Homo sapiens: one gene and its partner. The protein of the gene in region 2 interacts with the protein of the main gene of each other region in a biochemical or structural test. Each region holds a gene or a part of one and is shown on either strand. Other genes may lie near its edges.

Region 1 (3,815 bases), on a different chromosome or scaffold from region 2:
TTTTTAAATGTTTTTTAGAGACAGGGTCTTGCTCTGTCATCCAGGCTAGATGGAGTACAGTGGCGTGATCACAGCTCACTGTGACCTCCAATTCCTGGGCTCAAGTGATCCAAGTATCTGAGACTACAGGCATACGCCACCACACCTAGCTAAAAAACCAACTTTTATACTACATCTTTTTTTGTTAAGAAATTACATATTGTGCACTGTTGTTAACTAGACTAAATGATATACATATATGAATTATCTAGCACAGTGCCTGGTAGGAACTCAATAAAGGATGGCCAGTGTTATTCGTACAACAGAATAGGGAAATAAATACTAAAAACCGGCCGGGCGCGGTGGCTCACGCCTGTAATCCCAGCACTTTGGGAGGCCGAGGCGGGCGGATCACGAGGTCAGGAGATCGAGACCATCCTGGCTAACACGGTGAAACCCTGTCTCTACTAAAAATACAAAAAATTAGCCGGGCGAGGTGGCGGGCGCCTGTAGTCCCAGCTACTCCGGAGGCTGAGGCAGGAGAATGGCGTGAACCCCAGGGGGCGGAGCCTGCAGTGAGCCGAGATTGCGCCACTGCACTCCAGCCTGGGCGACAGCGAGACTCTGTCTCAAATAAATAAATAAATAAATAAATAAATAAATAAATACTAAAAACCAAAATGTTTCTTTTTGAATCTTTTCCCCAGTATCCTCAAAGTGTTTTACTTTACTATTTGGGCATCTTTTGAGTTTGAGTTTTGGTGGCTAGAGGGTTTTTTGTTTGTTTGTTTTCCTTCCAGGAAACAGGAGATGATCTGCCCAGAGTCATCAGAGATGAATATAAACAACTCTGTGTCTCCTGACTCTGACTCTGAAGCTTTATCCCACTACTGATGGTACTTTACTGAATAAAGACAGTTCTGCAGAGTCAAAAAACATCTACCATTGCTCAGTAAATATATTCATGGTTGATATACCACAAGTATTTCTTGAGTGCCTAACAAGTGCCTGTCTGCTATGTCAAAATTATAATACATTCAAGAAGGAAGAAATCTAGCAACATAATTCCACATGGTTTAATATTAAGTAATCATTATAGATTCTAGAATCAACCTACCATTGAGGTGAGAAAGATAGTCAATATAGGCCAGGACATACTCTGGAATGTCTCCATATTTTTTTAGCCCCAGCTCAAAAATCTTAAAGGCAACAGATTTGTCCTACAAGTAAAGAAAGTAAAGTACAGATTTCCATGAAATGTCAGATAAAAAACACTTGAAAGAATATTAAAATTATACCTACATATGACAAAATATGTAAGAATTAAAACAAATTAAAATCATGTTAAGTAAAAATTGCTGAGCTAGAAACTATTCAAAGGAGTTTAGTGATTAGAAATCACGAAATAGTGATTAATATAGTGATTAATAAAGCACAAATTAGAAATATAGTGATTAATGAAGCATAAATTAGCAAGTAGTTGGGGATTTGGATGATGCTCCATAAAATTTTACACAGATACACTTAGACTGCCTTTACAAAATGGAGCAATAAAAGCTTAATGACAGAAGCTAAAATCACCTTTCTTTTACGAACCTCAGATGAAGGAAGTTGTTTTATCTTTACACTTGTATTTCAGTATTTACCTTACTACAGTAATATTCCATGAGTGCTGCAGTAACATAGACATGGTGGCGGGTTCTGGTATCTTCTCTTGCTTTTTTAAATATCATTCTTCCAGATTTGATGCCTTCTGCTCTCCGTGCAAATTTCATATATTGGATATATACCTATGCAAAAGAAAGTATTTGTGTTCTATAAATTAGACAGTATGTTTCCTGCATAAGAAAGCAATCCTCAATACCCAATAAATTAGAAAGTAGGAATTTAGATAATATTCTATTTAAATCCACAAACTAATTTTTTTCTGGTATTAGAGATGCATGCAAATTAATTTATTTTTTTATTGAGACATAATTCACATAGCACAAAATTCACCCTTTACAATTCAGTGGTTTTAAATATATTCACAAGGTTGTGCAATCATCACCATTATCTAATTCTAGAATATGTAAATTAAAGTTTAAGAGTGAAAAGTGTGACACTACTAGAACATACTCCATTAATGAATGTCAATATCTAAAAAACTCAAGGGTTGGTTTAATACAAGCACGTCTTACAATACATGTTTTTTTTTTTGAGACGGAGTCTCGCTCTGTTGCCCAGGCTGGAGTGCAGTGGTGCGATCTTGGCTCACTGCAACCTCTGTCTCCTGGGGTCAAGCCATTCTCCTGCCTCAGGCTCCCAAGTAGCTGGGACTACAGGCACACGCCACCACACCCGGCTAATTTTTGTTTTTTAGTAGAGATGGGGTTTCACCATTTTAGCCAGGCTGGTCTCAATCTCCTGACCTCGTGATCTGCCTGCCTCGACCTCCCAAAGTGCTGGGATTACAGGTGTGAGCTACCGCGCCCAGCCTGCAATACATGTTTAACTTCACATTTTCTTGGTTTCTTTTTAAAAGCCCACTACTCTATTTTCCGAACAACATATAATAGAACTTCATGGATAAACTATGAGCCATTTTATACCTAGCACCTACAGAGTGTCCAGTACATCATGAGTATGCAGTTTTGTTTAGTGAACAAATGACTAATTAGTAGGGTCCTGGTTTGCCCAGTATTGATAATGTCTAGCTATATTACCCAGTTTTGATGGATGGATGGATGGACTATGAGTTCCTCAAGAAAAGGAATTTCATCTAGTTTGTCATTAATGTTGCTGGAGTCTAGCACAATGCATAGACTCTAGCAATATATTTGCCAGATATGTTTGTGGAATGAATTATAAGATGATGAATAAATGTAGGAATTATAGCAGTGGAATCCCAATATAAATCATTAACAAGAAAAAGTAGTGTAGCTATAATTGACTTGAGGCAGAGGTTCTAGAGACACACCCACAAGCCTGTCCCCTTCCTCTCCCAATGGGAGAGCATCACTGCACTTTTGCACTTGGGGCTTTGAAAACCACTATGATAGAGCAGGATTTAGCATAAAGTGAGTTTCAGTCTAATTTCTTCCCAGGATGTCGGTTTCTCCCGCCTCATTTAAAAAGAAATATCTATTAAGCAACAATTCTGTGGCATAAAGTGACTTCAAACCATGATCACAAAGAAAGTGTTAGAGAAAGTGCCTCTGTATCTATTTTATACTGCTGCATTAAAAAGAAAAAATTCTAGCAGAAAACAGATCAGTAATTGTCAGAGGTAAGGGCAGAGGGAAGGGTTATATCTACAAAGGGGTCACATGGGGGAATTTTTGGAGGATGGTGGAGGTGTTTTCTATCTTAATTGTGGTGGGGATCCCATACTCAATGTTATTTGTCAAGATTAATAGAACTATACAACAAAAACAGTGAATTTTATTGTATATAAATTTAAATTATTTTTTGTTAGATAAGACTGTAAAGGTGGAAAAAAAGATTTGTAAAGTTACTCACCAAGGTAGGGTCAATATCCTCAATTGCCAGAAGTCTGTTATATATACTGTGAACCTTTTCATACTTCATGCGACTCTAAGGTGGTACAGAAGAAGTGAGTATCAACATATGGTCATAAATAAGCAGGATTTGAGCTCCAAGGAATCCAAAGGCTATAACCTCCCACCCCCAATGGCATCTCCATTGAGCATAAATATAGTATAAGCTGACAACTAATAACTGTTCATTTGGCATCATCTCTGTCTACCAAAAGCAATATGCCTGGCAAACAAGCAGCCAGAAAAAAAGTTCAGTCCTGCACTAAAAAATTGAATTATAAGAAGGCTCTAAACATT
Region 2 (3,815 bases):
CGCTGGGGGCGCTGGCTGGGACGGGGGCCCTGCTGCCTCAATCTCACCTCAAAGGAGTAGGTGGCCAGCTGTGTTCCCGACTGGGCCTCGCTGCCGTACACTTCAATCTCGTCCACCTCATCCTGCGGCACCGACTTACCCGCAGCTGCACACAGAGAGCCCACTTGAGCGCAGCCCTGGGTCACCTGGCCCCGCTCCTGACCAGCCCTGGACCGGCCCTCACCTGACCAGCCGGCCGTCGCATCCACTCGCTTCTTCTTTGAGGGAGGCTCTTCCTGTGAGGCAGGAGGGGCACTGAGTGGCATGCCACAGCAGTGCCCACATGAAGGGTGGTGGCCCAATGGGCCCAGGAAACCCACCTTGTCGGCAGCCTCACGGACAGCACTGGCCGGGGGCTCCTGCAGCTTCTCCGTGTACTTGAGGAGGAGGGAATTGCCCAGGCGAGAACCCAGGAACAGGTACCCGGGCTCCATGGTGACCATCTGAGGGAGGGCAGGTGTGTGATGGCTGGGCCGGGTCTGGACCCAGACCCAACCCCTAGTCCCAACTCACGCTGGTGGTGAGGACGCTGGCGGCCGCCTTGTCAAAGTGGAACGCTCGGACACTGCGCATGCCGTCGGTGATGAGGGTCAGCACGTAGCTGGGGGCAGGGAGAATTCTGAGTCGGGGATGGGGACCCTGGGGGAGTGAAGGGGGCCAGGGGACCCTACAGGACTTGTGGGGGGCGGTGTGGGCAGAGTTCATGGGCGGGGGAGGGGCTCACATCTCGCCGCCCTTGAGGGAGATGACCATCTTGTCGTAGGAGATGAAGGTGGCCTGGGCGCAGTCCAGGGTGATCCGCACACCCTCCTGGGTGCCTGTGGGGTGGGTGGTCAGGCCGACTAGGCAGGCCCAAGCCGTCCCCGGGCCCCCCCCGCCCCAGCCACCCCACACTCACGAAGCGGGAAAGCCGTGGTTCCTGTGGTGAGGCTGTTGAGAGCCACGCCATACGGGGGGACGCTCTGGTTCAGGTACAACAGCGAGTTGACGGCAAACACCACCACCCCACCTGGAGGTGGACACAGGCTGGTGGGCAGGCTCAGTGCTCTCTCCACACACTCCCCTATCCACTCCCAGGACACACACCTATGGGCTTGGGCACAGCCAGAGCCTGGGTGCAGTCAAAGGGCAGGCTGGTGAGGGACCAGATGACGGGGTGCACCTTCTGCGTGATGTTCAGTGAGATGGCCACAATGGAGCACGTGTCCTGCCGCACGGCCACGCGCCTGGGGACGCCAGTGGGTCAGCCAAGGGCCTTGCCTCCCCGCAGAGACCCAGGCCCAGCTCCTCCCGAGCAAGCCCCACCACACCCCATAGGCCCCGCCCTAAACCCCATGGGCCCCACCCCAGGCAGAGGCAGCTAGGGGGCCCACAGTGCAGAGGGGCCTCCTTAGGGGGCTCACCCAGGCCAGGTCTGGTTGGGCTCAAACAGGATGAGGAGGGTAGGCTCGTAGTAGCCATGCAGGAACTGCAGGTCGATGATGTTGAGCAGCTTCTCGTCTAGGGCCCGCACGTCGATGATGTAGCTGGGCAGGAAGCTGGACCTCTGCCTGGGGGGCCAGGGGCTTCAGCAGGAGAGGAGGGGAGGCGGGGAGGGGAGCTCGGGCTCTGGCGCCTCCCACCCCAGCACCACAGCCTGCCTCAGCTGGCACTCACCCCTCACCCACGAGCCCCTCGTGCTCCTCAGCCAGGCTCTCCCTGCGGAAGGGCAGGACCACCAGCCGCGTGCCGTAGACAAGCATGGCTGCACAGCGCCCGTCGGGGTCCACCCGCACTCGCGGCGTGTGTACATTCTGCACAAACCCGTCCTGGGGGCAGAGGGGGCATCAGCCAGGCCCAGCATAGGAGACCCCGAGGGAAACACTTGGGGCCACAGAACCCAGCTGCAGGGGGAGGGAGGGTGGCTGGGCGGGGCCTGGGCGGGGGCGGGAGCGCGGCCCTACCCGAAGCTCAGGCTCCTCAAAGTAGTGCAGTGACAGGGTCTTCAGGTCATGGGTGCCCGGGTCGTACTCCACCACAGACAGCTGCGGTCAGAGGGCACAGCCGTGGCTGCCGACTGCCGGTCCTGACAGTGTCGCCCCCGGCAACCAACGGCTGTACCCAGGCCCTGGCACCCACTCCCACGCCTTGGCCAGGCCTACCCCACCAAGCCTACCACTCACCTTGGCATCCTTGAAGCTTAGGAGCAGGGCATCCCGCTTGGCTCCTGCCAGCTGCACGCTGGCCATGGACATGACGTTGCCAAAGAAGGAGAAGGAGGCAGCAAGCTCGAGCTTCTCCCGGTGGGCCTTCCCCTCTAGGGGAGACACCAGGGCTCAGGGTCAGGGCCCAGCCATGCCTGGCACCCGCACAGCCCCAGGCCGCCCCACCACACTCACCTGTGCTCCTGTCATTCTTGGTCAGAGCCTGGAGGGGAGAGAAAGACAGGGCAGTGAGGGGCCACATCTGGCAGCTCACCTCATCCGGGGAACGAGAAAAGACCACCAAGCCTGGCCCCTGCCTCCTGGGAGCTCTGCCCAAACCCTCTCTGCAGCAGGGAGAAGGGCTTCTGGAGACAGCTGTGCACAGCCCCCCACAGCGACCCCCATTCACGCTCTCATGCCCACGGCCCAGCCCTGGCACAGGCCCCTCCCCAGGAAGCCCCTACCTCACGGCTCCCTAGCAGCCAGGCCCTGTGCGGCAAGCACTCAGGGTTAGAGTGCACTCTGTGTCTGCACACCCCCAAACCTGCCTGGTTGCACACCTACAGCAGCCCAGCCCCGGCCCCTGGGTCCAAATGTCACAGGGCAGGAAGCCAGAGCCAAGGGGTATCTGTAGCTACTGATCTGCGTGCCTGTTAGAGAAGAGGAAGCCCTGCGCTATCCTGACGCCTCGGGCTCCCCCAGGCTGCCTCTCTATCTCCTCCCTTTTCACTGCCCTCCCAGAATGATAAGAGGCTGTGTGTTCTTTGCTACTAGGTAGCTAGTTTAACTAGCTAGCAGATTTATATGCCATTGCCTCAAGGCAAGGGAAAAGTGGTTTTTGTTTTGTTTTTTTTTGTTTTTTGTTTTTTGTTTTTGAGACGGAGTCTCACTCTGTCACCCAGGCTGAAGTGCAGTGGCGTGATCTTGGCTCACTGCAACCTCTGCCTCCCGGGTTCAAGTGATTCTGCCTCAGCCTCCCAAGTAGCTGGGATTACAGGTGCGTGCCACCATGTCCGGCTAATTTTTGTATTTTTAGTAGAGACAGGGTTTCACCATGTTGGCCAGGCTGGTCTCGAACTCCTGACCTCAGGTGATCCGCCCACCTTAGCCTCCCAAAGTGCTGGGATTACAGGCGTGAGCCACCTCAAGGTCATTTTTCACGATGGACTTGTGCTATGGGGAGGGCATCTTGGAAGCTGGTTAAGAGATACAGAAGAAGCATCCACAAACCAATACCCATCTCACAGCGACAAGGGCAACTCCAGGGCTTCACCCGCAAATTCTACCAAAGGTTTCAGAAGTAATGACACACTTAAAAAAAAAACACACACCCACTCATGTGGGGCTGACGGCACCGCAGGTGGCTCAGGCCACCCCAACAGCCCACAGACAGGTGGGACAGGAAGTGACACCAACCTCCTCAAAACGCCTGCAGATGAGCCCAGTGACAAGCAGGGGTATTGTAACACAACTGGGTTGAGTTATTCCAGGAACGCAAAACTAGATTTCCGCAAGAACAGCCATCGCTAAACTTACCATGCTGTCAAAATTAAGGAGAAAAATCATGTCATTTTAGTGGATACAAAAAAAGCA

What was found.
Region 1: the proteins of CPSF1 (region 2) and CSTF3 form a complex in vitro, tested with the Homo sapiens proteins (one study listed by BioGRID).

Annotation. Positions count from the first base shown.
Region 1 is NC_000011.10:33,095,210-33,099,024, forward strand, and holds part of CSTF3 (cleavage stimulation factor subunit 3), read right to left. Parts: intron 3,556-3,815; coding exon 3,481-3,555; intron 1,770-3,480; coding exon 1,626-1,769; intron 1,200-1,625; coding exon 1,097-1,199; intron 1-1,096. UniProt on the Homo sapiens protein: One of the multiple factors required for polyadenylation and 3'-end cleavage of mammalian pre-mRNAs.
Region 2 is NC_000008.11:144,399,229-144,403,043, forward strand, and holds part of CPSF1 (cleavage and polyadenylation specificity factor subunit 1), read right to left. Parts: intron 3,763-3,815; exon of another isoform or gene 3,639-3,762; intron 2,887-3,638; exon of another isoform or gene 2,687-2,886; intron 2,446-2,686; coding exon 2,418-2,445; intron 2,336-2,417; coding exon 2,202-2,335; intron 2,064-2,201; coding exon 1,983-2,063; intron 1,848-1,982; coding exon 1,696-1,847; intron 1,590-1,695; coding exon 1,443-1,589; intron 1,266-1,442; coding exon 1,126-1,265; intron 1,118-1,125; exon of another isoform or gene 1,049-1,117; coding exon 938-1,048; exon of another isoform or gene 858-937; coding exon 764-857; intron 641-763; coding exon 553-640; intron 483-552; coding exon 360-482; intron 276-359; coding exon 224-275; intron 146-223; coding exon 48-145; intron 1-47. UniProt on the Homo sapiens protein: Component of the cleavage and polyadenylation specificity factor (CPSF) complex that plays a key role in pre-mRNA 3'-end formation, recognizing the AAUAAA signal sequence and interacting with poly(A) polymerase and other factors to bring about cleavage and poly(A) addition.